7 linked regions of the Homo sapiens genome follow. The protein of the gene in region 7 purifies or fractionates together with the protein of the main gene of each other region. This does not show direct contact. Each region holds a gene or a part of one and is shown on either strand. Other genes may lie near its edges. The genes, in order: MYO5A, SCCPDH, MUL1, FAM174A, FAF2, LETMD1 and PEX19.

Region 1 (3,500 bases), on a different chromosome or scaffold from region 7:
AAGGCAGTGTCTCTCTCTGTCACCCAGGCTGGAGTGCAGTGGTTCGATCTCATTGCAATCTCCGCCTCCCAGGTTTAATCGATTCTCGTGCCTCAGCCTCCCGAGTAGCTGGGATTACAGGCAAGTGCCACCACGCCCGGCTAATTTTTGTATTTTTAGTAGAGACAGGGTTTCGCCATGTTGGCCAGGCTGGTCTCCAACTCCTAACCTGAAGTGATCCGCCCACCTTGGCTTCCCAAAGTGCTGGGATTACAGGCGTGAGCCACCGCGCCCAGCCGAGATTAATTCTTAATAAATTAAGAAGAGAGAAAACCTGTCAAGGTTGAAAATATGCACTGAAGGAATCAGATCTGGTAGTTAAAAATAAGTCACTTCACAGAACACTGTACCCTGACGCAATATCCACCCAGGGAAAATTAATGAGCACATCAATGTAATACATCCTGAATAAATAATGACATCAACAATAGCCACTTTGTCTAATCCTACCCCTAAATGTCAAGCATTTTGTCATATTACTACATGACTTTCCAGTGTCTGCTACTTGTGCAGGTGAATCTGTAGGTATTTGCATATAATCCAGTTAAAACTGTGATCTGATTGAATTGTAAACAGAATTGACAAGAGAAACTTATTGTAGTGCCTAATATCACTTACATTTTAAGAAGACAGTATGTAGCAGCAATTTAAAATGCTCAGTAAACTATAGTACAAATGGACATCTATACTATTTAGCAAACCAACATTCCTTTAATATCTCTATATCATAGTGACACAAATGAGGAATTACTTTACATATTGCCAGTTTATTTCTTTGAACCAGTTTAACAATATCAACATAATTGATTACTAAACTGACATGATATGTACTCAATGGAGACTTTTCTTTCCATTCTCCTGTTTAGTGCAGAGGAGGTTCTTTGGTGCCTTCCTAACAACAGCTCATCTATGGAAGTTATACTTTTTATACCATTCAAACTCAGTGCTAAGGATTTAAAATAAATGCTGCCAGCTGAAGACACATTTTTCTCCTCCTTTCCTTCCTCCCTTCCTTCCATCATTCTCCTGTATGTAAACTCACGGTACCTAGTTGGTTAAGGATGAGTGTTGCTATAAAGATAACACAGCACGAAAGAGCCTATCTTTGTTTCCAAAGTGATGAAAGTATTCTAGGGAGATTTCCAGTTAATGACTTCTCATTTGGGAGATAATCAGTACTTTCTCTTTAAAAATGTATTTTCAGTAACTCACTGGAAATAATGGGTTCTTATTTCGGGCAAGAAATGTATTGTCAATTTTTGCCTGGACATCACTTTCAGACCCGTGAAATGAAGCCCAGGCCGAGGCTGGCTGGAATCTGGATGGTTTCTAGTGCGAGGGAAGATGGGTTGAAAGGAAAGGTGACAGGAAAGATGTGTTTAGCATCCATGAGCAGCTGGGGAGAGTCTTTCCTGTCTCGTAAACGCATCTGAGAAGATTAGGAAAAAAAATAAACAGAGCATCAGTTCTTTGAATCTAAAAGACTTTTTTCTACTAAAATTTCTACCCTCAAATTCTCAACTAATGAAGAATGTTTACTTTTGTTTTAAACTCACTTCATTTTCCCAATTAACTATTATCAAAAAAGTTAGTGCATTGTAAAATAAGATAATAAAAGATAACACATTATCCTTCAATAAATTACAAAATGTCCATTCAAAAGACTGTGTTGGTGAATCAAAGAAGAAGATGGGAGCTCTTACCTGTATAGTACGAATGAACGACACAGAGACTCTTTCTTCAAACTCATTAACTGGAGTATACAAATTCAACACTTTCACAATCTGTGAGAAATGAAATGATCAAAGTTTTTGGCATATTATCAAATACACACTGGGTACCTATAATCTGGAAAATTAAAAGGATCTGTGCGTACAGATTTCAGTTCTACTCAGGGGTGGGCTGGGACCAGAAGGAAGGAGGAGCTGGTCTGCACATTTACCTTTATCTGAATTTTTACAAGAGAATGTATCAATGTAATGTTTGTGTAATATTGTAAGAAGCTGTGTAAATTTCGAAGATATTCAAATAGCACAAGAGAATAAAACATGAAAAATAAATGTCCGCACTTCCATCCTTCCAGTCTCCCAAAGTGGCAATTGTTAACCATGTCCTGAACACCCCCTCTAGCTGCTATAAATATTCTAGTTCATTTTATTTTTATACAAATGGGATTCATTCTATTAATACTATTCTGCAACTTTTCTCCATATAAAAATGTTAGCCGTATTAATACAATTATCTCTTTTGAATGTTTTTTAAATCATATTTTTATAAAAGATCATAAATAACATGAATAACAAAAGCCCCTAAAGAAATTAATCAATTAGAGAGTATGAAGTTCTTTTTTAAAAAGTTCAATAATTTTTTTTTGTAAAATGGTCATGTCTCTTTTCTAATGAAAATAAATCATCGTCTATATAAGGTAGATATTTCCATTTTCAAGGTATTGTCTAAACCTGTGCTGTCCAATACAACAGTAGTAGTCACTAGCCACATGTGGCTATTAACACAAAATGAAAATAAAAGTTGAATGCAGGACAGTGCTGATCTATAGGAAAATAAATTAAGCACCAGAGAACTAGAAAGTGGGCATGTTGTTATCAGGTCTGTGGGTGACAAACTGAATTAGGGATCAGTCTCTCGGAGGCAAGTATTTGAATTTTAAAAAGTGGGACCACTTTGTTAACTAATATTTGCTAAATAAATAAACTGCAGGTCTGCCTCACTCTGTGAAATATGCTTAAAGTATATTTAAGTATTAAAGTATATTCTTTAGAAGTTGAATGGCAGCCAACTTCTATAAAGTTGGGCTTCCTCCAGGGTATTCTTACTTTCCACACTTGCAGAAACTGGGAGGAAATCTCAGGACCATTGTTCTGTCAGATAGTTCTGCTTTATTCTTAGTAAGAAGTTATGCAAACATGAATTCAACATTAAGAAGCTGCAAGTCTTGATTCTGATTGTCTACTGATTGACTTTTTTTTTTTTTGAGATGAAGTCTCTGTGCAGTGGCACAATCTTGGCTCACTGCCACTTCTGCCTCCCAGGTTCAAGTCATTCTCCTGCCTCAGCCTCCCAAGTAGCTGGGATTACAGGCACCCGCCACAATGCCTGGCTAATTTTTGTATTTTTGTAGAGATGGGGTTTCACCATGTTGGCCTGGCTGGTCTTGAACTCCTGACCTCAGGTGATCTGTCTGCCTCAGCCTCCCAAAGTGCTGGGATTACAGGTGTGAGCCAGCACGCCTGGCCTACTGATTTTTTCTGTTGCCCAGGCTGGAGTGCAGTGGTGCAATCTTGGCTCACTGCAACCTCCGTCTCCCAGGTTCCAGCAATTCTCCTGCCTCAGCCTCCAGAGTAGCTGGGATTACAGGTGCCTGCCACCATGCCCGGCTAATTTTTGTATTTTTAGTAGAGATGGGGTTTCACCATGTTGGTCAGGCTGGTCTCAAACTGATT
Region 2 (3,500 bases), about 86 Mb from region 7:
TTTTGTATTTTTAGTAGAGACAGGGTTTCACCATGTTGGCCAGGCTGGTCTCAAACTCCCGACCTCAAGTGATCTGCCCACCTCAGCCTCCCAGAGGTTTGGGATTCCAGGCATGACCCACCGCGCCTGGCCCTCAAAGTTCCATCTTCTAACCCAGTGGTCTCCCAAGTAGTCTTCCCCTAAGGGAAGCGCAGAATGATCCACTGAGGGTGGAAGTAAATATCAGAACTTTTATCCATGTTAATGTTTACAAAAACATGACGTTCCGTTAACGGTTACTATATGGACTGACTACGAGACATTCCCTGGGCCATGTTAAGTGGTCATGTGTTGAAGACAGGACACAGCAGGTATCCTGATGGGGTTGTGGGAAAGTTTCCATCACACAGAGAGGGCCTCAGCACCACTCTTCATTCATTCAGTCGTTTTCACTTTACTGCAACCTAATGCCTGAATGAGGTTATTGAGGTTCTAAAGCTTAAACGCTGAGGCCTCAAGCATTTAGAGTGGGGAGGACAAAGACGCAGTGGAGGAGACGAGGACTTCCAGGGTGAAGCTGGTGGACAGGAGGAAAACTACGAGAAGATGACAACGTAGAAGCTGAGCAAAGAAAGGAGAAAGTGGTCAGCTGGATCGAATGCTGCAAGCTTTCAGATGAAGACTGGATTTGACAGGGTGGGACTTTAGCAGAGTAGTTTCATTGGAGGAGGGAGGAAAACAAAAGCCCAATAGGAGGCGTTTAAGATAGAGTAGGAGGTGAAGAAGCAGAGATAGTGAGTCATGAGAATTCTTCCAAGGAGGCTGCTAAAAAGGGGGCACAAAAAGTAGAGTAGTTGGAAGGGTATGTGGAATCAAGCAGCTTTTTTTAAAATATGGGAGATATCACATATTTAAATGCTGATTGAAATAATCCAGTAAAGAGGAGAAATTTGATAACAAGATAATGTGTAATTGTAAACATAAAGTGTTACAGGAAGTCAGGGACCCCGAACAGAGGGACCAGCTGAAGCCACGGCAGAAGAACATAAACTGTGAAGATTTCATGGACATTTATTAGTTCCCCAAATTAATACTTTTATAATTTCTTACACCTGTCTTTACTGCAATCTCTGGACATAAATTGTGAAGATTTCATGGACATTTATCACTTCCCCAATCAATACTGTTATAATTTCCTATGCCTGTCTTTAATCTCTTAATCCTGTCATCTTTGTAAGCTGAGGATGTATGTTGCCTCAGGACCCTGTGATGATTGAGTTATCCGTACAAACTGTAAAACATGTGTCTTTGAACAATATGAAATCTGGGCATCCTAAAAAAGGAAGAGGATAACAGCAATTTTCAGGGAACAAGGGAGATAACCATAATGTCTGACTGCCTGCGCGACTGGGCAGAAGAGAGTCATATTTCTCTTCTTGCAGAAAGCGAATAGGAGAAATATCACTGAATTCTTTTCCCAGCAAGGAATAACCCTGGGAAAGGAATGCATTCCCAGGGGGAGGTCTCTAAAATGGCCGCTCTGGGAGTGTCTGTCTTATGCAGTTGAAGATAAGGGATGAAATACACCCTGGTCTCCTGCAGCACCCTCAGGCTTGCTAGGATTAGGAAATTCCAGTCTGGCAAATTCTAGTCAAACTGGTTGTCTGCTCTCGTACCCTGTTTCCTGTTAAGATGTTTATCAATGACAGTGCGTGCCCAGCGGGACATGGAACCTCATCAGTAATTCTAATTTTGCCCTGGCCTTGTGATCTTGCTCTGCCATTTGCATTGTGATACCGTATTGCCTTTTGAAGCATGTGATCTCTGTGACCCACTCCCTATTTGTACACTCCCTCCCCTTTTGAAATCCCTAATAAAAACTTGCTGGTTTTGCAGCTCAAGGGGCACCACGGAACCTGTCAACAAGTGATGTCACCCCCAGAGGCCCAGCTGTAAAATTTCTCTTTGTACTCTTTCTCTTTATTTCTCAGACTGGCTGACACTTAGGGAAAATAGAAAAGAACCTATGTTGAAATACTGGGGGCTGGTTCCCCCGATAATAAAGTCTTTGAAAACTGTGCCCAATAGGAAGAGGACCAGTTTTTCCTTGTAACAAGAGATATGGCAGACTACAGGGTATGATGCAGATTGGCAGACAGGTAGGTAGGTAGATAGATCTGGTGGTAGGAAGATGAAGAAAGAAATTCTGTTATTAACCAGCTTCTATTTTCATAGTTAAAAAAAAAGAAAAATAAAATCAGATAAGAACAAGGAAAGAGAGACGGGATACTAAAAGTTCAAGGAAAACAAGGTTGTGAGCTGCTTCAGAGAGCAGGAGAGAGAATTCCTGAGGGAAATAGAGCAGAGCTGCCGGAGGTGCTAAGCACCACACAACGTTTGTAAACACATATTTGAAGTGTGACCAGTTAGCAGGGGGATACATTTTTCTCCAGCCACACTGTGTTACTCATGTTCAGGTGAAGAGCAGGCAGAGAATAACCAGGGCTGGGATTTTTCCAGAGTACTGAGGAGAAAAAGGCAAGGGAGATAGATGAGGGCGTCCATTATAGAGTGCAGCAGTGGACCTCATGGATGGAATCTAAGCTAGTTAAGAATGAGATGAATCTAAATCAACAACACTTCTATTTAATAGCAATTCAAAAACCCTTTTGCTCTCAATTAAAAATTATTAATATTTTAGATATTTAATTTTTAAACATCTTGCCAACTGTGATGGCTTCTTCAGATCACTAAATGTCACCAACATTCACCTTGTTACACAGGCCAAAAGTCTGATGGCCTGTGACTTGATGACTTTTTCACAGTACAACAGCAAAAGCCGTTCTCCTTTGAAAATATACTCTGGACCTAACTACTTCTCAGCACCACTACGACCCCAGGGCTTGTGCTTGCACCATTCCATTGCTCATCCTTTGTTATCTACTTTTCCACTCAGAAGCCAAAGAACTTCCAATTTAAATCAGCTGAAGCCCTTCCTTTCAACCATTCAACGCCTCTTGGTCACACCTGGAAAAAAAATCCACATCCTGGCCATGGCCCGTAAGATCCCACATGACCCAGCTCCCGGGTTGCTCTCTGATCCACTCTCCACCTCTCTGCCATGCCCAGCCACACTGGCCTCTGTCACACTCTTCAGTCTTGCCAAGCACACTGGCATCTCAGGACCTTTGTGCCTGCTGTCCCTGGAAAAGTCTCTCCTCAAAAGGTTCATGCAATTTGCTCTCATTTCATTCAGATCTTGGCTCAAATGTCAATTCCTCACAGAAACCTTCCCTGACCATCCATCTAAAAACACCAATATGCCAGGACCTTTTCTCCTTTCTTGGCTTCACTTTTCTTCAAAGCACTTTTCATTACCTCCTATTACAATCCTATTTTTCTGTCTTCCCCAAGAACGTAATGTCCACGAGGGATTTTCTGTTTTGTTCACCATTGTGTCCCAGGTGCCTACAATAGTGCATTTCACATGTGGTAAGCATCAATAAATATTTATTCAATAA
Region 3 (3,102 bases), about 140 Mb from region 7:
GTGGAGAAGTGATACATACCAAAGGTGGGTGGTTCGATTCCACACCATCTTGTGCTCCTGAAGTGTCAGCCGCTGAATTACCCCCTTGCAGTTTTCCACAAACTGGCTGTTAAGCGTTTCTTTAACAGACCGCACAGCTCCTAAGTGGACACAAATTCTATTATTTCTGAAGAAGTTTTCTGCCCTCTCCTTTCAGATAATTTAAAATGTGTTTTCTGGTCTGGCACAGTAGGTCACACCTATAATCCCAACACTTTGGGAAGCCAAGTCAGAAGGATCACTTGGGGCCACGAGTTTGAGACCAGCCTGGTTAACACAGTGAGATTCCATCTTTACAAAAAATTAAAAAGTTAGCAGGGTGTGGTGGCATGTGCCTGTAGTCCCAGATACTTGGGAGGCTGAGGCAGGAGAATCACTTGAGCTCAGGAGTTTGAGGCTGCAGTGAGCTATGATCACACCACCATACTACAGCTACCTGGGTGACAGAGCCAAGACTCTATTTGAGACGGAGTCTCACTCTGTTACCCAGGCTGGAGTACAGTGGTGCAATCTTGGCTCACTGCAACCTCCGCCTCCCGGGTTCAAGCAATTCTCCTGCCTCAGCCCCCCGAGTAGCTGGGATTACGGGTATGTGCCACCACATCCAGCTAATTTTTGTATTTTTAGTAGAGACGGGGTTTCATCATGTCGACCAGGCTGGTCTCAAACTCCTGAGCTCAAGTGATCAGCCCATCTCAGCCTCCCAAAGTGCTGGGATTACAGGCATGAGCTACCACACCTGGCCTCAAAAAAAAATTTTTTTTTTAATTTAAAAAATGTTAAAAATTAAGTGTTTTCAGTTGACTTTTGCTAATTCATCAAAACAATGACATTCTGATCACCATAAGTCACATTTTAGAAGCACTCTCCTAAGCACTTTGCATGGATCACATAATTTGTCTTATAACAACCCCATAAAGGTAAGTATTATTTTCGAGATCAGGCAACAGTGGTTCAGGGAGGTTTGGTAATCTTAGCGATCACAAAGCAATAACCCATGTCTTTCTGACCCCAAAGTATGTTCTGGACCATGGACCCAACACCACAAAAGGCTCTTCATATTAGCCAAGATGATCTTTATCAATCTTTTGGGAAAAAGACGTTGTTTTCCATTGACCAATAAGCAAACATACCTTCTATAACAGCATAAGGCACGCATTTTCCTGGAGCTTCTGAAAGAATACTCTTTAAATCTTCACCCAAATGAACTTTTTTAGCTCCCTAAATAAAAAAAAAAAATTAAATTAATTGGCCATTGAACACTGACATGCTCAATCAAACTTACAGGCAAAAAAAAGAAAAAGATTCTATTTTTTTCGTGTCAAGAGAATATGGAAATTGGACAGGAAGGTGACTACTGAGAATCAGATTTCAAAGCTGTGTACATCAACAGGAATGGAGCCATGCCTCTGCCTCTTCCATCACTGCAGAATGGGGGTGCCACATACATTCTTGTTCCAGTTAACCAAAACCTATACTCCTTTTCATGTTAAGACTTTTTAGTGAAAATATAAAAGGTACTAGTCAATTTACATACCACAGACTGAACATCATTCAATCTCTTCCTGACAACACAGAGCTATGATCCAAAGGGTTCAGGTATAAAGTACCTAACCTATCACCTAGCACATGGCAGTGGTTTGAGAACTGGTAGGTGTTATTATTAATATTACCACATCTTTACGAACCAATGCTCTGCATTGTATGTTATTAAAAAAACAAAGCAGGGGGAGTTGCCTTTGCTTCAACAGGAAGACTGTTAACTGGTGCCAAATGCCATTCTACATTTTTTTTTTTTTTTGAGATGGGGTCTCACTGTTATACCCAGACTGGAGTGCAGTAGTGCAATCATGGCTCACTGCAGCCTCAACCTCCCAGGCTCAAGTGATCCTCCCACCTCAGGCCCCCAAGTTGCTGAGGCCATAGGCATGCACCACCACACCTGTCTAATTTTTTTATTTTGCAGAGACAGGGTCTCCCAATGTTGCCCAGGCTGGTGTTGAGCTCCTGAGCTCAAGCGATCCTCCTGCCTCGGCCTCCCAAAGTGCTGGGATTACGGGTGTGAGCCACCGCACCCAGTCTGTTCTACTTTTTGCCTTTTTCATGCTCATAATTAAGTGAGCACGGTTCTTTCTGCTGCTGTCTTCCTCTAACAATCCCTAGTTCTCCTCTGCCTTCCAACTCAGAGCGTCCAACCCACTGCACTTGGGAAACCAATCCTGTTACTGCTGTTTCAAAAATAAGAGAAAAGGAATAAAATCAACAATCATTTCCTGAGCATCTTTGTGCCAGGCACTGTGCTGGGTGTCAGAGATTCAGGACGAATAAAGGACCATCTCTGCTTTCAGGGTATTCCCAAAAACAACTCTTAAGGATGCCAGATTCAGTAACCTCTAAAGAGGTGATGTGATACAAGATGTATATGAAGGTCACTCTGAGTTTAAGCTACTGCTACACAGTAAGTGACAGGAGCAAGGTCAATCAAAATTTCTTAGCCACTTACACTGTGAAGATACCAAAATGACAGCAATAACAACTAACAATTTACTCATTATCTGTCTCCCTCCACTAGAATGTTAAACTCTAGGAGGGCTTGGACACTGTTTGTCCTGTTCACTGCTATCCCCCTAGTGCGGAGAACTGTGCCTGACACACAGCAAGCATTTAATACATTATTTGATTAATAAATTAATGAATAAGTAAGCATTTAAATATACTATGTACCAGGCAATATGCTAGGCACTTTAAATGCATAAACCACTTAATGCCCACACCATCCCTTTACGGTAGACATTATTATCACCAATTACAGACAAGGAAACAGGCTCAGAGAGGTGAAGTGATTTGCCCAAAGTGAGACAGCTAGTAAAGTATCCACCACAGGATGGCCAATTCGAATTTTAAAGGGGGAAGAGGGAGAATATGATCAGAAAGATCTGGAGTTTAATCTAGCGCCAATGCATCCACTGTGACTTGGGACAACTTCATTTATCTGAGTCTCAGGTTCCAAAACCATAAAGGACAGGGAAAATGCAATTTCACAGGATTTTTATGTGGGTTAAA
Region 4 (3,500 bases), on a different chromosome or scaffold from region 7:
ATTTACATTGGCATTTATTCTATACTCATGTCATTTTATTTATCTAAACCTCTTAGGAAAGGTCTTAACACTTACTGAGAATAGATCTCAGTATATATATTACAGCTACATGATCAGACCATAAACAATTAGTCCCCCAATTCTGCAAGGCAGCACTATTTACAAACACTAGAACCCAAACTAAAAAGAAAATATCTTCAGAATACAAAAAGGAAATTAAATTTAATAAGTATTTCTCTCTCACACACACACACACAAACACACACGCACACAAACACACATGCACACACACACCCAAGTTAATACATATTGCAAGAATGAAGAAGTTAATGGGTCCTAGGCTTAATAACTGGGTGATGAAATAATCTGTACGACAAAACCACATGACACAAGTTTACCTATGTAACGACCCTGCACTTGTACCCCTGAACTTAAAATAAAAGATAAAAACAGAAGAATAAATTAAAAAAAATATTTTGAGATGGTATTCTATTGTTTGTATCTATTTGAGCAAAACAACGTGAATGTGAGCTATGGGGTAGATAGCAAAAAGAACTTCAGTAAACAGAACTGAAGAAACTGTGTTGGAATATAAGCTGTTAAATGAAAGTCTACTTTACTTCTTCAGTTTACTTGGCAAGGACTTGCTTCCTGATTCATGGAATTAAACTACTGGAATACTTACCTTCGAGGATGATTGGCATCAAACAACGTGTTGTCATCATCCTCATCATCCTGTTCTAAAGGTGTCAATTCCATATTTTCTATGTTAGTGTCCAAAACTCCATATCTCCTAGTCTTTCGGTTTCTTCTTCTCATCCTATCAAATAGAACAAATTAATGAATAAAAATTATTTAATATGGCATAGTTTATATTTATTTATAAAATAAATTATTATTCTGTTTCTGACATAGCAAACAATATCAGAATGGTTACATTTCAGATATGCAACAAATTTACCACCTAGGATTAAACTTCATGAAACAAAACCTACTCCTACATGTTTATGTGCCATCGCCTGTTTCTTCTGTCTGACATACTCTCTTCTCTCTGTGTCAACTGATGGTGTTGACAAATAACTTTTAAGCCTTAAATTCAGGTACCGTACTTTAAACCTTAATTTTTAAAGGCTTAGGTCAGGTACTTCTTTACTGAAACCTCCTGCTCCAGCCTTTTCCCCATGTCCTCCCCGCTTTCTTACCACTGTTTAGATGCCCCTCTAAGAAACTGTATGTATATGCATATTCACAGACTAAACTGATAGCCCACAACTCTAGCTGCACACTAGAATTACCTGGGAGTATTTTTTAAAGTCCCATGTTTAGGACATAACTGAATCAAAATGTACAGCAAAAAAGAACTAAATATGAATATTTTGTTGAGGTTCTAAATGTGATTCCAATGTGATATAAACCATTATCTGAGATCAGTGGTTCTTGCAGTGTGGTTCTCTGGATCAGCAGAATCACAGTCACCTAGGAAGTTACGAGAAATGCAAATCTTCATGGCTAGCCCAGACCTAGTGAATAACAAACTTTGAAGATGGGGCCCAGAAACCTGTCTTTTAACAAACATTTCTTATGCTTTTGATGCATATTCAAGTTTGAGAACCACTGGCTTAGAGAAATTCAAAAGATTCAAGGGTGCTTAACATTCATTATTAGCCATATGAATGAAATCTCAAGATTTAGAGTCCTACTTCCAGTTTGTGTCTCAAATAACTTGTTCTTTTCCTTCAAATCATTTACCTTAATTTGCATTCCTATGTGCTGATGTATATGTTTATGTGGGGTTTATTCATCTGTCTCTCCCACTAAGTTCTCTGAGGGCAGCAACCAAGACTGCTTTATTCACCACTACATAACCACTTCCTAGCACAGTGATGTATCAATTAAGATGTTCTTCAATTAATTGTTGAGGGTCTGAGTGACTTCTACTTTGGCGACCAAAACTGTGACCCTGCAAGGAATGCCTAAGTCATCTCCAATGCAACAACTTCAACTCCACAGACAGCAAAATGTGTTTCACAAGAGTGTCCACTGGAGTTTGAAAATAAATAGAAAATATTTCAGCAAGTTATCACAAATAAAATCAGTTTACATAAATTCTGATTTACTCTGTTTGACATATGTGGGATAAGAAATACTTGGGCTATAACATCAACTGTAAAGAGCAACATGAGACTCCTCAAACATGACAGTGAAGCTCCTGGAAAACAAACATACCTTCAACAAATAATTGAGTCTTATTAAGCATCAGGTATGATATTAGCACCTGGGTGTAAAGTGCCTGGTCTCAGTGTTAAAATTTACAAAATGTTACTAAGTGTGAGTACAAACAAAGAAAATTTCCACCAGTCATTACCTATAGAGCTATCTATATACACGTCTAAAGTGATGGAACAGGAAACAGAGAGTTAAGCATAGCATTTAAAGTTACAAATGTAACCAATGAAAGGGTCAGTAAATATTAGTACTAGCAAAAATGAAGCAGTATGAAATACAAAGTACTCTTTCTTTCACAGTGAGAAATTAAGTATGTTTAGGTTGTTACATTAACATGTATATGTGTGTGTATGTGTGCAAACACACCCACACACACCATGTAGACCAGAGGTCTAAACTTTCTCTATAAAAAACCCAGGCAAACAGGGTCTGGAGTGGACCTCCAGCAAACTCCAATAGACCTGCAGCTGAGGGTCCTGACTGTTAGAAAGAAAGCTAACAAACAGAAAGGACATCCACACCAAAACCCCATCTGTACGTCACCATCATCAAAGACCAAAGGTAGATAAAACCACAAAGATGGGGAAAAAACAGAGCAGAAAAACTGGAAACTCTAAAAATCAGAGTGCCTCTCCTCCTCCAAAGGAACGCAGCTCCTCACCAGCAACGGAACAAAGCTGGAAGGAGAATGACTTTGACGAGTTGAGAGAAGAAGGCTTCAGACGATCAAACTACTCCGAGCTAAAGGAGGAAGTTCGAACCCATGGCAAAGAAGTTAAAAACCTTGAAAAAAAATTAGACAAATGGCTAACTAGAATAACCAATGCAAAGAAGTCCTTAAAGGACCTGATGAAGCTGAAAACCATGGCAAGAGAACTACATGACGAATGCACAAGCCTCAGTAGCCAATGCGAACAACTGGAAGAAAGGGTATCAGTGATGGAAGATCAAATGAATGACATGAAGTGACAAGAGAATTTTAGAGAAAAAAGAATAAAAAGAAACGAACAAAGCCTCCAAGAAATATGGGACTATGTGAAAAGACCAACTCTACGTCTGATTGGTGTACCTGAAAGTGATGGGGAGGATGGAACCAAGTTGGAAAATACTCTGCAGGATATTATCCAGGAGAACTTCCCTGGATAGGGAAGTTCTAGCAAGGCAGGCCAACATTCAAATTCAGGAAATACAGAGAACGCCACAAAGATACTCCTCGAGAAGAGCAACTCCAAGACACATAACTGCCAGATTCACCAAAGTTGAAATGAAGGAAA
Region 5 (3,190 bases), on a different chromosome or scaffold from region 7:
TTGCAAGGACACAAGTTGGTTCCAACAAAAGTGACAAATTCCTTAAGAAAATGTTATTCCAAGAAAATATTCTTACAAAATACACTCCCATAGAAGGGGAACAAACACTTAATGACATCTACATATCAGGAGCCTCATATACATTTACTTGATTGAATCTATAAACCTATCCTGAGGTGGACGGCATTATCTTCATTTATAGCTGGGGAAATTCAAGTTCAGGGAAGCTAGAGAATTTGCCCGAGGTTGCAAACCTGACAAACTAGAGAGCCCAAATTTGAACCCAGGCCTGTCTGCTCTCTCTCTCCATCATACTAAGTTGCTATTTTTCCACAGGGATACAACAGAGAAGACCTAACTCCATCCTTCTCTTTGACTCTCCCTTCCTTCTTGGCAATGCCATGCCATGCTGTTCCCTCCCGGTGTTTTTCAACCTCTCCTTCACACATAGAAAATTATCTACCACATCGGTCCCACACAGAAAGATCCACAGCCTGTTATGAAGTTTTTGCTATAAAACATTTAATGTTAACCTACAATACAATGTAAACTTTTATGAAAAAAATTTAAAGTACACTAGATTTCTTCAGTAAATTATCACATGACTATTCAGGCGCAGTACAAGTTGGGGCACTGCATCCTTTGTGGATGGATTTCCGTTGCTGTGTTCCTCACAAGTCCTAAAAAAACCAGTTGTAGAGCGGAGCTCCTTGTTCAAGCACCGGATAATGATGCCCCTGATTTTGCATTCTGGGGGTTATCGCTCCTTCTCAGTCATTTTCTGAAACTCTTTGCTTGGCCTTGGCACCATTAGCAATTTTCACAACTGCTCAATTGAAGGTTCTAGGTTCTTTTTAGCTTAGTTTTTAAGAGACAAGTGTTATCCTCTGGCCATCTCTTATTCAAATATCATGGTGGAGGCAAGCAAGGAGAAAGAAGTATTTGCTAGAGGAAATTCTGCAGAAGTGGAAGAAAAGACCAGAAGGGCTCCACTGAGGGTACAAATATTCAACTGACTCCAATCGAGTGTCTTTGCTTGGTCACTTCCCATGGTTATTCAGCTCAATCTACAACTTCAGTCGTGGGAGTGCAGAACAAAACTTGAAACAAGTGCTTTTAGTTGATGATTTGCCATTTGGAAACAACAGCTGAAATATCCCAGAGGTGATGTGGAAACAAGAGCAAATGCTTGCAGATCACTGGCTTCTCAGTGTCTTCTCCCTCGCAGGTCTCATCAAAATCCCAAAAGTCCTTAGGAGTAACACAGATTGTACTGGCATTAAGTGACAAAATGTGCAGCCTGTATTTGACTGAGGAGGAAAGGAAATGGCACCTAGGCAGCAGCGCTAGGGTCAGCAAGGAGACCGGCCTAGGGTCTCAGTAAAGCAGAACTGTTTCAAATGGGACTAGACCGGGGCATGTGCTTCCGGTGAATCCTCTTGAAACCTAAAGTAAATGGGAAGGCCGCCCTAACAGTTGTACTGACATAAAGGGAGACCCTTCTTAATATTCTGGCAGCTGACTTCCTTCACTGAACAACTATTATCAAAAGGCGAGAGGCATAAAGTGCACACTGTAGAATAAGAAGAGACTGAATTATGATGGAAAAAAAAAATCGTAACTTCCCCAAAGAGGTGTGGACAGTGTACCTAGCCTCACAAAGGTCCTTAATACCCTCCTGTGTGCTGCCAGGGAACAGCTGTGAATTCCAGATGGGGAGGAAGGCTCTGACTTAAGTGGAAAAATTCCTCTGCATGGTTGTCAGCAGGAAGGTTTCACGTAAGGTTATCCTTATGTGGAGAACATGGGTTATCCTGCTGTTCACGCCAGATACATTTTATTGACAGCAGTCAGATGGTGATTCCACTCATCTGGCCTTGGGACAGCAGAAAACGAAGTGGAAGAACAATAGCTGGCCAGGGACAGAATTAAATTTTCCTAGAGATGGTGTTCTAGACAGCTATGCCAAGGCCACTGGGAATTTCTCAGGCTCTCCAAGTTAATTTCTGTGGGGTGCCTTACTCTGCCATGTGGGATTTACCCCAACAACTGAGGACTGCAGTGGATAGTAACCATATAATTGCTACCAAAAACAGTGGTCCTTAGGTTTTAGTTAAGCAAGAGAGAAAGCCTTGAGACTACAACTCCAGCAAGTTAGGCTTTATGTTGATCTGAACCCCCCGCCCTCACAGCATTCTAGGAACTACAGTAACGTCAGTCGGTTGCAGTGGTACAACGAGCCTGCACCAGTCTAGCTACAGAACACTTTGGAATACTTGTCAGAGCGCACTGGCATCTGTTAATACATGGCCTGACCCATGTACCCATTACCATAAACTCAACCACAGACGAGACATCCAGAGGTTAAAAAAAACCCTATTACTTCAACATAGCAATAGAGAGAAAGGATAAAAGCTGCCTCCAGAAGGTGGCTGCATCAGAAATGAAAATGTGCCTTCCAATAGATTACACAGGCTGGGAGTTCTGTCTTGGCTCCCTTCAAGGCCTCTGGTTCTATCCTTAAAACAATAATACACTTCCACTGAGACAGGCAGGGCACTCTCCTGTGGTTCTGCTGGCTCCACCACAGGCCCTGCTAGTCCTTTGGAAAGGCACCAGGCTTGGCAATTCAGGAAAGCCCAGGGCTGGGGGGAGCAGCATGCACATGTCAGAAGAGGAATGAAGAGCTGCTATCCTTTGGTTCAGACCCCATAACCACCACCTGGTACAGACTCCAAGGAAAAGCTGCAGTTGTGTGTAAAGGTGAGTTCCACCACATACATAGGTGTATCTTTACATATACAGCCTTTGTGGGGCCACAAACCCAGATTTCCTCCCACTGCTCCAAGTGGGGTGCACAGGTGGTAAGAAAGGACAGCAAGAGTTGGACCAAAAAGAATGACCTCTCTGGGAACGTGAGAGGGACAATGGCAGAAATAAGCACAAACCAGCCCGGGGCACTTTTATTACACTATTGTGGGCTAAGGAGCCCAGGGCATAAACTCATGGGTTTAAAGAATTGGCTCTTTATCAAATAAAGGAAAAAAATATATATATATACCTATGTCAGCCTCATTCCTTTGGTCATTACAAAACAGAAATAAAAGTTATTGAAAACTTGTGGGCAGTTCAAGGAACATCTCTGCTTCTCTGCTCTGTGCTTTCTCTTCCCTCTCTTCCCCAGAGGCAG
Region 6 (3,500 bases), on a different chromosome or scaffold from region 7:
ACCTGGCCACGATTTGTTTTTTAATTTATTTATCTACGTGTTTGGTGGTTTTAAAACATGACCTCAAATTCTCTGGCACTTGTCTCATGGAGAGCTGAGGTCTACATCCTGCCCTTTTTTCATTCTAGGTGACTGATTCAATCAATAGGACAGAGCAGCAGTGACTCTATGTGACCTTCAAGACAAGGTTATAAAGTCATGTAGATTCTTACTAGAACCCCTCACTCTTGGAGCCCTGAGCTCCCAAGTTAGAAGTCCCACTATCTTGAGGCTGCCATACTGAAGAAGCCACATCTGGGCACTCTGGTTGACAGTTCTAGCCGTGTAGCCATCCCTGCCAGGGCACCAGACATAAGAGTGATATTGGACTTTCCAGACTAGTCCATTCAGCAGCTAAATATCACTAAGGGACCTCTGTCAACCCTATATGGAAGAGAGAAATCAACTGCCCACCTGAGCACTGCCCTAATTCTTGAGCTACAAAATCATGAAAATGATTTATACGATTGTTTTATGCTATTAAGCTTTGAAGTTATTTGTTATACAGCAATAGATAATGAATGACATGCAAGATCACAGTTAAGAAATGTCATTTTTGGATATGAAGTAATAAAAATGTTATCAGAATACGAAATGTACTTTTCCTAAAGAAATTAGTCTAAAAGTACTCTCTCTCGGGGAGAGAGCCTCTAGGGATGATGGAGAAGGTCACTATCTTATTTCACATGACTCAGGGCAGCTAAGAGATAGGGAGAGTCTAGGCCACCTACACTTATAGCTGTGATGTGTCACAGTAACCAAGGTCTTCCTAAGTGGTTTTTATGAACCTTGGAATAATGAGAAGATTGGAGCAGAAGTTTGATAACCTCTGCCTATCTTCTGAAATGAGTGCTGTTTAAAGTAATTCTTAATTTAAAAAAATTGATACATCTTCAAGATGTTGGGGAGATGGAAGTCTGTACTCACATTAGCAAGAAGACCAGGTAGTTGGCAAAAGGTGGAATGGAAATAATACCTAGGAAAAGACACTTGGTGACGTCTTGGCGGAACTAAGCAGAAATAAACACAGATGCAGTTTTAACCCAAATAAGTTGTTAATACAATAGACAATCCATCCACCCCACTGTACAGTAAACTTCTATTACAGCCCAGAAAAAGGACCAAATTTCTTTCTTTTTCTTTTTGAGATGGAGTCTTGCTCTGTCACCTAGGCTGGAGTGCAGTGGTGCAATCCTAGCTCACTGCAACCTCTGCCTCCTGGGTTCAAGTGATCCTCCTGCCTCAGCCACCCGAGTAGCTGGGATTATTGGCATAAGCCGCCACTCTAGGCTAACTTTTGTATTTTTAGTCGAGACAGGGTTTCACCATGTTGGACAAGCTGGTATCAATCTCCTGACCTCCAGTGATCTGCCCGCCTTGGCTTCCCAAAGTGCTAGGATTACAGGCATGAGCACTGCATGTGGTCCCCAAGTTTATTTCTATTTACTTCTGGATGGTTAGTTCCTTGAGGACAAAACCTCTGACTTATTTACTTTTGTATCCCAAATAATGTCTAGTACAGAGCCTGACATTATACCAAATCCTTCAGTGAACTCTTCCTGATCTGCGGAATGGGTCCTAGATTCTTACTCTCAGCTTCAAAACGACCCATCAAGTCACCACCAAATACTACTTTCATGCTGCCCTTTGGATCCTTGCAGACTTTTTTTTTTTTGAGACAGAGTTTTGCTCTTATCACCCAGGCTGGAGTGCAGTGGCGCGATCTTCACTCACTGCAACCTCCGCCTCCCAGGTTCAAGCAATTCTCCTGCCTCAGCCTCCCGAGTAGCTGGGACTAGGACTACAGGCGCCTGCCATCATGCCCAGCTAATTTTTGAATTTTTAGTAGAGATGGGGTTTCACCATGTTGGCCAGGCTGGTCTCAAGCTCCTGACCTCAGGTGATCCGCCCACCTCAGTCTCCCAAAATGCTGAGATTATAGGCGAGAGCCACTGTGCCTGGCTGCCCTTGCAGACTTCTATTTTCATTTTATTATTATTTTTTTTTGAGATGGAGTCTTGCCCTGTCACCCAGGCTGGAGTGCAATGGCATGATTTTGGCTCACTGCAACCTCTGCCTCCCGGGTTCAAACGATTCTCCTGCCTCAGCCTCCCGAGTAGCTGGGATTACAGGCGCCCGCCACCACACTCAGCTAATTTTTGTATTTTCAGTAGAGATGGGGTTTGACCTTGTGGGCCAGGCTGGTCTCGAATTCCTGACTTCGTGATCTGCCTGCCTCGGCTTCCCAAAGTGCTGGGATTACAGGCGTGAGCCACCGCGCCCAGCCCCCTTGCAGACTTTTGTTATGTTCAGAAACTAATTAGATTTTAGTATTTACAACTTTCATTCAGAAAGTGTGCCAGAAATTCTATGGAGCTCTTGCTATGGAGGGCTACAACTCTGGATGAACCCAATTCTTACAAATAATCTGATGCCTCATTCAGTTCAATATTTTGTTCTCACGGCAAAGGGCAAAAGCTTGATCAATGGTGAACAACAAATGAAAGAAAAAACCTTGAGATCTTGATTAAATGTAATTACCTCACCATGAACTTCTGGATATCTGCCCCTGGCCCATACCTGTCTCAAATGCTCCATCTCCCGGTATGGAAGTTGATGAAACTTTATATTGTGCTTCCACATATTTGTCTTTATTCTTCTAGCCTTTTTGGCATCAGCCCATAACATCTGCAATCCTGCCTCATTAAAGTAGAGGACAGAGTGTGATGTTATCCCAGTTTAAATCTTAACCACAGCTTCCTACTCCATGTTCAATCACATGCAAACACTCTCACCCCTCCCCAACGATACTCAAAGCTTTAAACTAGGTAACTTGAAACTCCTGAGGTCAACTCGAATCTCTTTTCTCAACATTTTTTCCCCTAGCACATCGCCTCTCTTCTAGCTACATTTGGCTTCTGTAATCTGCTATGGAATGGTCTCCCTCTTCTGTTTCACTGGTCACTCCTTTTTAAAAATCAAGCTCCCTAACTTCAGAAAGTCTTGCTAAATTAACCCTATGTATTCCCCAGCCAGATATTAATTTAATCTCCTTTCTGGAACTTTTTTTTTCTTTTTTTTGAGATGGAATCTCACTTTGTTGCCCAGGCTGGAGTGCAGTGGTGCGATTTCGGCTGACTGCAACCTCCACCTCCCAGGTTTATATAATTCTCCCACCTCAGAATCCCAAGTAGCTAGGATTACAGGCGTGTGCCACCATGCCTGGCTAATTTTTGCATTTTTAGTAGAGATGGGGTTTCACCATGTGGACAGGCTCGTCTTTAACTCCTGACCTCAAGCAATCCACCTGCCTCGGCCTCCCAAAGTGCTGGGATTACAGGCATGAGTCACTGCGCCCGGCCTGGAACACTTATTTTTGTTTTTGAGATGGAGTTTTGCTCTGTCGCCCAGGCTGGAGTGCAGTGGCGCAATCTCGGCTCACTGCAACGTCCACCTCCTGA
Region 7 (2,914 bases):
GCTCCTAGGACCACTCACATTCCGTTAGCCATCTCCACTTTGACCTTGCTACCCTTAAGGAAATTTACTCACCTTGCTTCTGAGAGTTAAGTGTTGCCACCTGGCCTCTGCTATGTCAGGATCCTATCATTCCCCCACTGCTACTAGGAAAACAGTTTCTTTTACATCTTGTATCAGCTTCGATCTAGAGAGACAGCCACTTCTAAATTTCTCAAAGATGCTGGTAACCCTTCATCAGTGCCTTTCCCATTGTCTTTATTAAAAAATAATTCCCAGGTCTTTCTGGGGTAGTCAGCTGGTGGGTTTACCAGTGTTATATAACATTCATTCTTGCATACCCATTTCCTCTAAGTCTTTTGGTCCTTTTTTGTATGGTCTGCCGTCTCCACGTCATTCAATATGGGCCAATGTTTTCTCCTAGCTCCCCAAAGCCATCTTAACATCATATTATAACTGCCTCATGGGGCTTTGACAAGACCTTCCAGAGTCACAGGAAAATGTCCCAATTATCAAAAAGTCTGTATTAATTCAATTCTTAATTCATGAAGCCACCCATACAATCACAAATTTATCTAACACATTTAATTTTGGAACAAAGGAGCAACTCCTTTAAAGTTTGAGAGTCGCATAAATATTTCATATACAGCTTAAACCTAAGCTTTGTAACGATTATTTTTGAGCAGCAGAAAAGGAAGGCTAGAGAAATGCTAGAGATGTCCTTACTAGTGACACATTCTTGCTGAAGAACAAGTTCTCTGGAAGTGAAACTCAAATAGGAGAGAACAAGAGATACAGGTAGGTATCAGTTCTGCTAGGGTCTTCAGAGAGACCGAGGGCCCCAAAACAGTGCTACTCAAAGATGATCTGCAGACTTGTGCTGGTCAGTGAACACCTTTTTTTTTTTTTCACCAGTCTGTGACATGGTGAATTAGAAATTGAGAGTGTTTAAAAACTTTTTAGCATTTCAATGTTGCTGTGATATCCAAGTACATGATCAATGGACTTAACCTACAGAACAGTCTGGCCAGTTTGGGTGCTGTCAAACTTGCCGGGTCGGCAGCACACAGTGTGAACTCCATACCTGTCATGGGCAATAGGAATGCATATTGATAAGTGAAGGACTGGAAAACAAAAAACCTGGTCCTTTACCATACATAGTTTGAGAAAGACTGCCCTAGAGTACCATAACTCCACCACAAGTCCTGGAATAATTCCAAAAGTTTTTGGAACAAAGTGTGACCTGAGGTCAACCTGCTCACATTCAATCAAAATCAAAATAAAAATGAGTGCCTTGGGAACAAAGATAAAGTGGACTAGGGCATCTATTTAGATTCCTGGAGTAAGCCCTGGCTAGGCTAGCAGAAGTGAGAATCTGTAAAAGAAAACTGGTAGGACAGAAGGCACAAGGTTCATAGAGAAGGGCTCTTTTGTTCTTCCCTCCTCCTCTCTATCCTTGTCCAGTTTTTGGCTGGAGCTTTAAGGAGAAAATAGTGACACTGAAGCCCCATGACTATATCACAAGTATACCTGTATTTTTTCCATCTCTGGCAGAACAGAGACGTTTTACATTCAGATCTGGGCTCTTCCATGCTCTGGTAAGGTATAGGAGTTGGAATTTCCCAAATAGCCTGAGACCTTGAGAACATTTCCTTCCTCACCAATACCATAAAACATGTAAGGTCTTCAAGGGGTGAAAAGTTTTAACCTCGGGGCAAGTGACATGTCAGAAGCTCAAAGCGACTCATAATGCATGTGAATTTGCTTTGGAGAGACTTATCTTCTGAGTGAACCAGGACAGCCAGCTGAGCTGACCAGAGTACCTACCAACATATGTCAGCCAAGGTCCGTAGACCCACTGGGAGCCACAGAAAAAAAGCCACGTCAGCTTAAAGAAAAATAATTTAGAAAACATAACAATATATTACTAACATTAATAACAATAATGTAAAAGGTTAAAATATAATACCACTTGAAGGGCTTTCTACATTGAAATACTCAAGGGAACATGAGGAAAGATGGCCATCCAGTCTCCTTTGCCAACTGAGGTGCAGACTGAGTTGTGGAAGGTGGGTGTTGATGGAACCCAGCATTACAATATTGTGTAGAACTAGTCTCCTAATATACCTCACTCTGCAACTTACGGAAGCTGAGGAAGATCAGAAAAAGACCACACTCCTCACTCAGAATATTTATTATATTCTGCCCCATGGGGCCTTGCAGGAAAAGGGACCCAAGCTATACCCCTACTCCTTTTCCAAGCTACTTTCCTGAACCAAGGGACAGGATTCTAAGAGAATCATGTATCTCAAATAAGCCAGAATGTATCTGGGGAAGAATAGCCATTAATTTCCTAGACCTGACACTGGGTTTATTTGTGTCTGCCAGGAAGACGGGGAGTCAGTGAGAATCGTAAATGGACTAGATGAGGGGAAATAGGATGGGCCCTTCTTTATCACAGCTTGAGCTCAAAAAGGTTGGGATAAACAGGTGTTTAAAAAAGAGAGGAGGTAAAAGGGAGGATGGGCAGGGGATAGAGGAAGGTCAGGGGCTGGGTTCACCCATATCACACAGCATTGTAGGAAGAAGCAGGGTAACCATTTGAGTTCTCAGCCTGGAACAGGGAGGTGAGGGCTCAGCACCTAGAGAGAGGAGAATCCTAAGGCCTCTCTTTCAACTCTATTGTGATTAGATGCAAAAGCCCTTTCCCTTTAGAGAATTCAGAATGGTCTGTCTGAAGGCAAGAGAGCATAGTGACAGACCTGTAGCCCCAGCCCAGGCTGTTTCTCCCCATTCTCAAAGGCTCTGCCAGGAGAACTATAGAAATACAGAGTCCCAGGTCTCTGCCCCTCCTCCCCAGATCCAAGAGAGGGAGTAGAGACAAGGCACAAAGACCCTGGACGTAAAGGTGAACATC

What was found.
Region 1: the proteins of PEX19 (region 7) and MYO5A purify together in Homo sapiens (affinity purification with mass spectrometry; 3 studies listed by BioGRID and IntAct, with this or other methods). This does not show direct contact.
Region 2: the proteins of PEX19 (region 7) and SCCPDH purify together in Homo sapiens (affinity purification with mass spectrometry; 4 studies listed by BioGRID and IntAct, with this or other methods). This does not show direct contact.
Region 3: the proteins of PEX19 (region 7) and MUL1 purify together in Homo sapiens (affinity purification with mass spectrometry; 3 studies listed by BioGRID and IntAct, with this or other methods). This does not show direct contact.
Region 4: the proteins of PEX19 (region 7) and FAM174A purify together in Homo sapiens (affinity purification with mass spectrometry; 4 studies listed by BioGRID and IntAct, with this or other methods). This does not show direct contact.
Region 5: the proteins of PEX19 (region 7) and FAF2 purify together in Homo sapiens (affinity purification with mass spectrometry; 6 studies listed by BioGRID and IntAct, with this or other methods). This does not show direct contact.
Region 6: the proteins of PEX19 (region 7) and LETMD1 purify together in Homo sapiens (affinity purification with mass spectrometry; 4 studies listed by BioGRID and IntAct, with this or other methods). This does not show direct contact.

What each region holds. Positions count from the first base shown.
Region 1 is NC_000015.10:52,312,381-52,315,880, forward strand, and holds part of MYO5A (unconventional myosin-Va), read right to left. Parts: intron 1,824-3,500; coding exon 1,743-1,823; intron 1,469-1,742; coding exon 1,316-1,468; 3' UTR 1-1,315. UniProt on the Homo sapiens protein: Processive actin-based motor that can move in large steps approximating the 36-nm pseudo-repeat of the actin filament. Can hydrolyze ATP in the presence of actin, which is essential for its function as a motor protein. Involved in melanosome transport.
Region 2 is NC_000001.11:246,727,409-246,730,908, reverse strand, and holds part of SCCPDH (saccharopine dehydrogenase-like oxidoreductase), read right to left. Parts: intron 1-3,500.
Region 3 is NC_000001.11:20,502,050-20,505,151, forward strand, and holds part of MUL1 (mitochondrial ubiquitin ligase activator of NFKB 1), read right to left. Parts: intron 1,261-3,102; coding exon 1,173-1,260; intron 141-1,172; coding exon 20-140; intron 1-19. UniProt on the Homo sapiens protein: Exhibits weak E3 ubiquitin-protein ligase activity. E3 ubiquitin ligases accept ubiquitin from an E2 ubiquitin-conjugating enzyme in the form of a thioester and then directly transfer the ubiquitin to targeted substrates.
Region 4 is NC_000005.10:100,559,374-100,562,873, reverse strand, and holds part of FAM174A (membrane protein FAM174A precursor), read right to left. Parts: intron 821-3,500; coding exon 686-820; intron 1-685.
Region 5 is NC_000005.10:176,507,385-176,510,574, reverse strand, and holds the end of FAF2 (FAS-associated factor 2), read right to left. Parts: 3' UTR 501-3,190; downstream 1-500. UniProt on the Homo sapiens protein: Plays an important role in endoplasmic reticulum-associated degradation (ERAD) that mediates ubiquitin-dependent degradation of misfolded endoplasmic reticulum proteins.
Region 6 is NC_000012.12:51,051,327-51,054,826, reverse strand, and holds part of LETMD1 (LETM1 domain-containing protein 1), read right to left. Parts: intron 2,740-3,500; exon of another isoform or gene 2,736-2,739; coding exon 2,620-2,735; coding exon of another isoform or gene 2,581-2,619; intron 1,050-2,580; coding exon 967-1,049; intron 1-966. UniProt on the Homo sapiens protein: Plays an essential role for mitochondrial structure and function, as well as thermogenesis of brown adipocytes.
Region 7 is NC_000001.11:160,276,307-160,279,220, forward strand, and holds the end of PEX19 (peroxisomal biogenesis factor 19), read right to left. Parts: 3' UTR 501-2,914; downstream 1-500. UniProt on the Homo sapiens protein: Necessary for early peroxisomal biogenesis. Acts both as a cytosolic chaperone and as an import receptor for peroxisomal membrane proteins (PMPs).